Linked DNA regions of Homo sapiens. The protein of the gene in region 2 purifies or fractionates together with the protein of the main gene of each other region. This does not show direct contact. Each region holds a gene or a part of one and is shown on either strand. Other genes may lie near its edges.

The links.
Region 1: the proteins of NLRP5 (region 2) and DECR1 purify together in Homo sapiens (affinity purification with mass spectrometry; one large-scale study listed by BioGRID and IntAct). This does not show direct contact.

What each region holds. Positions count from the first base shown.
Region 1 is NC_000008.11:90,039,437-90,043,260, forward strand, and holds part of DECR1 (2,4-dienoyl-CoA reductase [(3E)-enoyl-CoA-producing], mitochondrial isoform 1 precursor), read left to right. Parts: intron 1-3,291; coding exon 3,292-3,364; intron 3,365-3,824. UniProt on the Homo sapiens protein: Auxiliary enzyme of beta-oxidation. It participates in the metabolism of unsaturated fatty enoyl-CoA esters having double bonds in both even- and odd-numbered positions in mitochondria.
Region 2 is NC_000019.10:55,985,505-55,989,763, forward strand, and holds the start of NLRP5 (NACHT, LRR and PYD domains-containing protein 5), read left to right. Parts: upstream 1-1,270; 5' UTR 1,271-1,317; intron 1,318-2,309; coding exon of another isoform or gene 2,310-2,409; exon of another isoform or gene 2,410-3,125; intron 3,126-4,259. UniProt on the Homo sapiens protein: Component of the subcortical maternal complex (SCMC), a multiprotein complex that plays a key role in early embryonic development.

The DNA.
Region 1 (3,824 bases), on a different chromosome or scaffold from region 2:
ATCTTGTGAGAACTCACTCACTATCATGAGAACAGCATGGGGAAAACTGTCTTCAGGATTCAGTTATGTCTACCTGGTCCCACCCTTGACATGTGGGGATTATTACAATTCAGAGTGAGATTTGGGTGGGGACACAGAGCCAAACCATGTCACCATCCTACCTTCTTAATCTCTCAGCTCCTCCTTTCCCCTGCCTCTTGCAGCAAACTCCTAATCCTTCTTCACCCATCAGCTCAGAATGTTACCTTTTCAGAGAAGCCTTCCTTGTCACTCCCACTTAGGTTCTTCTTCTTTTAAGCAGGTATAGCTTACATCACACAATTCCCAGCCTAGTAACTGATTCATTATATAACCAGGCTCACCTCTCTTGAGAGGGAGGGACTCTCATTTGAGAGCAGGGACTGACTTTATTTGAGGCTAAGCAATATTTATAGTATTGACACATGGTAAGTATATAATAAACATTGGTTGAATGAGCAATAATAATGGCTAACATATTGCATATATTGTTCTTAGCATCTTAACATGCAGAGATAACTGTATGAGGTGGATTCATTATCAGATTACAGTAGTTCTTCAGTATATCAGCTAGCTTAATGACAGTTGAAAGATCATGCTAGCAATTGAACAAATGTATCTGGCACACCTCTGAGCACAGAGAGGATGGCTTTTCCTCTAGGCAGATTTTCTTAACAGGTTGCTCAGTTTTTCATAGGATAATATAGACTCTGCTCAGTACAGTAATTCTATTAAGACATGAAGCAATTTAGAGTAGATACACTATAAATAAATGCCCAGGGTAGCTATGGCAATGAACTTTGTCAAAAACATCACTCAGAGAAGCAATTTTTATGTATGTTCTGTCTGAAAGAGATACAGCCCACCCATTTCTCTAAAATACATTCATGGATTAAGTCAGATTAACAGGCTATCTTGAGATTACGTGTACCCTATTCTGTAGAACTGGTTTTACTGAATTGGCCTTTGAAATGATGCTATAAGACTATTAACGGATGTCTGATAGTTTCATAGAACTTAGCGCATTTTTAAAATTATACTTTAAGTTCTGGGATACATGTGCAGAATGTGCAGGTTTGTTACATAGGTATACATGTGCCATGGTGGTTTGCAGCACCCACCAACCCGTCATTTACATTAGGAATTTTTCCTAATGCTATCCCTCCCCTAGCTCTCCACCCCTTGACAGACCCAGTGTGTGATGTTCCCCTTCCTGTGTCCATGTGTTCTCATTGTTCAGCTCCCACTTATGAGTAAGAACATGCAGTATTTGATTTTCTGTTCCTGTGTTAGTTTGCTGAGAATGACAGTTTCCAGCTTCATCCACATCCCTGCAAAGTACATGAACTCATCCTTTATTATGGCTGCACAGTATTCCATGGTGTATATGTGCCACATTTTCTTTATCCAGTCTATCATTGATGGGCATTTGGGTTGGTTCTAAGTCTTTGCTATTAAGAACAGTGCTGCAATAAACATATGTGTGCATGTGTCTTTATAGTAGAATTATTTATAATCCTTTGAGTATATACCCAGTAATGGGATGGCTGGGTCAAATGGTATTTCTAGTTCTAGATCCTTGAGGAATCACCACACTCTCTCCCACAATGGCTGAACTAATTTACAGTCCCACCAACAGTGTAAAAGTGTTCCTATTTCTCCACATCCTCTCCAGCATCTGTTGTTTCCTGACTTTTTAATGATTGCCATTCTAACTGGCATGAGATGGTATCTCGTGGTTTTGATTTGCATTTCTCTAATGATCAGTGATGATGAGCTTTTTTTTTCATAGTTTGCTGGCTGCGTAAATGTCTTCTTTTGAGAAGCGTCTGTTCATATCCTTCCCCCACTTTTTGATGGGGTTGTTTGTGTTTAAGTTTAATTTGTTTAAGTTCTTTAAGTTCTTTGTAGATTCTGGATATTAGCCATTTATCAGATGGATAGATTGCAAAGCTTTTCTCCCATTCTGTAGGTTGCCTGTGCACTCTGATGATAGTTTCTTTTGCTGTGCACAAGTTCTTTAGTTTAATTAGATCCCATTTGTCAAGTTTGAACTTAGCCCATTTTATCTATTGCAAGGATACAGTGTCTTAAGGAGATTGTTATACTGTACAATTTTCCTTTTGTAAGTCTAGAAAGACTTAAAGCATTTTTCGTATTAGAGACAATTGTGCTTTTCCTGAGCAATTAGCTTGCTTTTTCTTTATGGGTACTGTGGATTGTGTAACTGATTAGGCTTACCTTTTTTGTATAGAGTCATGGGAAGAATAGATACAAATTTGTGATGTGACTATTGCAGTTATATGGAACATCACACACTTCAGTACATTTAGATATTAGCCTCATTCTTGGCTCCGTTATATTTCGTTATCCTGGCTTTTCTCTCTCTTTATCTTGCTTTTTTTCTTTCCTTCTTCCTTTCAAATTATCCTGTCTTCCTCATTTGCATTATATGAATTCTTTTAAGCTACCTCGTCATTATTTGAAATTACATTAAGTATATATACACACAAATATACATATGAATGTAAATTCCTAAAATGAATTTAGATTTTAAAAGAGCTACCTGTAAAGTAAGCTTTTAAAACAAGTTCCTTTGAAGTTCTTTGTTTGCTATTAGTGTTATATTTTTCTTCAGGACATTAAGCAAGATTTTGTTAGATTCCTATTTCCTTTCAAGTTTGGTTCAACAATTATATTAAAGCCTAGTTAGACATGGATGTGGTTTATATTTTCAATCGATGTACTCTTTTACTCAAATAAAGCACTTGTGATATTACAGACATTGTAATCCAATGTACAGGGCTATGAGTAAAGTTATAATGAACTTTGTAACTACAAGACTGAACTCCAGAAAATGTGAGGGAAGGGCATGAAGCACTCACGTTTTTATGTGAATAATGAATACCTACTCTAAAAATGTGTATTGACATTGGACAAAAGTATATATTCTAAACTACAAATGGTAGGTGGTGTAGCATAGTGGTTAAGGACACTAAAATGTAAAGGTTAGGTTGTACAGTAGAGTGACTAAGGGTACAGACTGAAGCTAGACCTCTTGAGATTGACAAATTGGCCATATGACATAGAGAAAATGATTTAACCTCTCTGTGCCTTAGTTACATTATCTGTAATATAGGGAACAATAATAGTACCTACCTGTTGGGGTTGTAATCTCTGGCATGTAGTAAGCATCTAGTGAGTCTCAGTTATTACTGTCTTTAACATATGGTATAATATTTCAGAATGTATGTTGTTGATTTTAATTTTTAGGTCTCTTGCAGCTGAATGGGGTAAATATGGAATGCGATTCAATGTGATTCAACCAGGGCCTATAAAAACCAAAGTAAGTTGTATTTTGCTTGTTATCACATTGTGAATGATTAAATAATGAAACACTGATAGGTATATTCTGGTTGTTGTGTAAAGGACTTTCCAGAGATGCCTAGGTTTAGAGCCCTGGTTCTAGGGAAGAGGCCTTTGCCTTTATTCATTATCGAATATAAGAAATAAGGAGGCGGGCAGGAATATAGCAGCTATGCAATTTCTTCATAATGTCAATTTCAGTGTCTTAATCGTTTGGGATCTTTTATACCATCAATGTTGGCACTTTGTCTGATTTGTTTCAGTGGTCTGTTATTGTCCTGTATTTGTTAACTTTCATGACATTTTAAAGGCTCCTACATTGTCTGACATCCTTTTTTAAAAAAAATCAAGGAAATGTAACTATATTTTTAGTTTGAGAGATGCTTTGGTAACTTATTATATAGGCTTTGTCTTGTTATAGGTAGGTAGCATTTTCCTTG
Region 2 (4,259 bases):
TGTAACAAATGGTGCTAAATTGATTGTTCCTACATAGAAGAAAAAATCTGAATTCCTACCTCATACCATATACAAAATTAATTCCAAGTATAGTATAAATCTAAATATGAAAGGAAAGACACTACACTTTCTAAAAACTAATCAGAAGACCTTCATGACCTAAGGAGAGACCATAAATTTTAAAATGCATTCACCATAAATTCTTCAAATGGAATTTTCAAACACATTTGGCCAGGCACACTGGCTCATGCCTGTAATCCCAGCACTTTGGGAGGCCGAGGCGGGTGGATCACCTGAGGTCAGGAGTTCGAGATCAGTTTGGCCAACATAGTGAAACCCCATCTCTATTAAAAATCTGAAAATTAGCCGGGCATGGTGGTACACACCTGTAGTCCCAGCTTCTCAGGAGGCTGAGGCAGGAGAATTCTTTGAACCCAGGAGGTGGAGTTTGCACTGAGTACTCCAGCCTGGGTCACAGAGCAAGACTCCACATCAAAAAAAACTAAAAATAAATACATGGGACTTTATCAAAAGTATAAACTTCTGTTTCAAGATTACTAAGAGAGTACATTTCAAGTGTTCTCACCACAAAAAAATAAGTATTCAAGGCAATGGATGTGTTTGTTAGCTTGATTTAATCATTTGACATTGTATACATAGAAGATCACACCGGACCCCAGGAAAATATACAATTATAATTTGTCAATACACAAAAAATTAAAAAATGCCAAGTGCAACTTCCAGATTATGTAAAATAAGGGCACCCAACACACACTCACACTCACACACACACTCTATCATACACAGTCTCTCACACACACACACTCTCTGTCTCACACACATTGTCTCACACCCACTCACACAGTCTCACACACATTCTCTCACACACATACACACTGTCTCTGTCTCACACATTCTCTCTCTCACACACACATGCACTCTCTCTCTCACACACACACTCTCTCACATACACACACACACACACACACACACACACACACACACTAATTGCTTCAGGACAGCCAGCTGAAGGCTGTGAGCATCCGGGCGCCCTCAGCACAGGTGTGTGGTGGTAAAGGCAGCCTCTTGCCAGCAGCAGCACCTGTAAGTGGTGCACACAGGTGCAGAAAAGTGCCTGTTCCCTGGGGCTGGTGGTTCAGAGCCGGTTGCAGCCAATGAGCAGCAGCAACATCACTGGCTCAGCGCTCCCCAGGAACTATCGCCACGTGGGCGTGGAGCTGGGCGTGGCCTTCTTTTTTCCGTGATTGCCAGCTGGCCCAGAGCTGGACCTGCTCTTGGTGGTGAGGTGTGAAGCTGGTGAGTATTCCTCCTGTCTTGCTCTCTGCCCTTCCCGCTTTTGTTCTCCACTGCTGATTAGAACCCGCGTATTGAGCTTACTAGGTGCCCCCACCCTCTCCCTTCTGGCTGCTCAAAGCCCAGGACCAAAGGATTCCTTGAAAGAACAAAGTCCAGTTACCCCATTTTGCTGAAAAGATCTTCCTCTAAAACCTCATATTTACTTGGGGTATTTAGGTAAGTCTCTCGTCCTTTTCAGACATTCGGTCTAAAATACTGTACAGAGGGCTGGGTGCAGTGGCTCACGCCTATAATCCCAGCACTTTGGGAGGCCGAGGCAGGTGGATCATCTGAGGTCAGGAGTTCAAGACCAGCCTGGCCAACATGGTGAAATCCTCATCTCTAATAAAAGTACAAAAATGAGCTGGGCGTGGTGGCATGTGCCTATAATCCCACCTTCTAGGGAGGCTGAGACGGGAGAATCGCTTTAACCCAGGAGGCAGAGGTTGCAGTGAGCCAAGGTCACGCCACTGCACTCCAGCGTGGGTGACAGAGTGAGACTTCGTCTCAAGTAAAAATTAAGTACAGAGTAGGGGGTACTGCAACTTGAATGTCAGGATTAGCTAATGTCTGGTCTGCATTTGGTAGGAGTCCAGAGGGTGTTTTGGTGCTAATTGTGCAAATACTATGGTTAACCGTAACTTAGTTATTGAAATGCCATACAATTCTGACGGTGTTGTTTGTCCTGTTTACCAAGGGAGGAAGCTGAGCCCCAGATAAGTTAAATGGCTTGCCTGGGGTAGAAAGCAGCAAATCATTCAAAGCTGGGTCTGAGACTTCAAGCCCTATAATCTTAACTGCTGCTTTCTAATCATTCAGGACACCTGGGTAGAAAGGTGAGGTGGGAGGGGTACGGTCTGTAGAAAAAGCATAGAGACAAAATGCAAGCTTAGGGAAGTCACTCATCCTCAGAAAATAACCTCAACCAGCAGCCTTCCTTTACCTCCCTCCAGCTGTATTCCTGCCTGGACTCGAATAACTAGCTTCTCCCCAACTCCTCACCCACCCGACTTCACGGGAAAAAGTGACTGCCTATCCCAGATTAATCCTTAGGCCGTCCAGTCATCTTTCTCTGGGGCTTGATTGATCAGTTCCCACTCTGACAACTGGCAAATACCAGGCGTTATCATCCTGTATGCATTAACGTACTTTCCCCTGAAACAGAGCAACCCAGTCAACACCACAGAACCTCAGCTTTGAACCCTGGAGTGAGGACGGTGATGCCCTGTGTGTATTAATATGCTATGTAAGGCTGGGCGTGGTGGCTCACGCCTGTAACCCAGCACTATGGGAGGTCGAGGTGGGCAGATTACCTGAGGTCAGGAGTTCCAGACCAGCCTGGCCAACATGGTGAAACCCCGCCTCTACTAAAAAAAAAAATACAAAAAATTAGGCGTGGTGGTGGGCTCCTGTAATCCCAGCTGCTCGGGAGGCTGAGGCAGGAGAATCACTTGAATCTAGGAGGCAGAGTTTGCAGTGAGCTGAGATCACGCCATTGCACTCCAGCCTGGGCGACAGAGCAAGACTCTGTCTCAAGAAGAAAAAAAAAATACATATACACATAAATATATATATGTGTGTGTGTATATATATATATATATATATATATGCTATATAAAGTTTAAATGAAATGCTTTGAGTCACCTAAGACAGGATATAGACAAAGTCTTCATCGTCTTCTTGCTTCTTCTACCTTTATTTATTCTCAGCTCTGAATGTATGAACCTGCTCAATCACCTCATCTTAAAAATAAAATCACTGTCCCTAGACCATACTCGTTTCCTTACCCACCCCTGAGGCTTTTGTTGGTTTTTACAGCCCTGGTTCACGTCTTGGTCCTCCAGCCCCTTTAAAGGATTGTGTAGAGCGGTAAGGGAAATGTTTAATTCAAATTACGTGTATATAGAAGTGTTTAGATATGACAGTCCGAAATTCGTTCTTTCTCAAATAACCTTCCTTCTTAATTTCATTGCCTAAGTTGAGAGTCTTTGTCTTCTGTGTTTTGCTTTCAATTTCCATGTATCCAGGTGGTTTATGTTAACTCAGAAGGGGGAGAAAAACCTAGAAAATCTTAATTGTTCTGTGGTCAGGATGTAAGCTTTTAAACATGTGCTCAGAAATAAGTATTTTTCCATTTACCAATAGTCAATATTGTCCCTAAATATTTATAGGAATGTGTAGAAAAGCTTATTTTCTTGCTATGGTTCTATTTTGAGCAATACAGCACATAAACTTCAATGTTCTATCATCAGTGTTCACGTGTACCTAGTTTTTTGGTCTTCCATGGATGGGTAATTGTAAGAATACCTCAATTGTTTTGATGAAATTCATTTATGTCTACTTATCTTCTACTAAAATGATTTTTTAATGGGAGGTACTTTTTAGTATTTGGTGATTTTTGGTGTGTATGTGTTAGACAAAGTCTCCCTCTTTTGCCCAGGCTGTAGTGCAATGGCTGGATCTCTACTCACTGCACCCTCCGCCTCCCAGGTTCAAGCAATTCTGCCTCAGCCTCCCGAGTAGCTGGGATTACAGGTGCCCGCCACCACGCCCGGCTAATTTTCATATTTTTAGTAGAGACGGGGTTTCCCCATGTTGGCCGGGCTGGTCTCGAACTCCTGACCTCAGATGATCCACCCACCTCAGCCTCCCAAAGTTCTGGGATGACAGGCGTGAGCCACTGCGCCCGGCCTTTTTCAGTATTAATTTGAAAGAGCAGCAATATGAGAAGGTGTGGCGGGAAGTGTGTCCTTCCCTGCCCCCGTAGTGTCTCTTCCCTATTTTCTGCTCATCACCCAAAGACATTCTGCGCACGTGTATGGCATTAAGAGCCTTACAGATGGGGCAACTTTCTGTGCTGATTGTTGTGCATTTTTAAGGATGCAGGGCACGTTGGTGCTCAA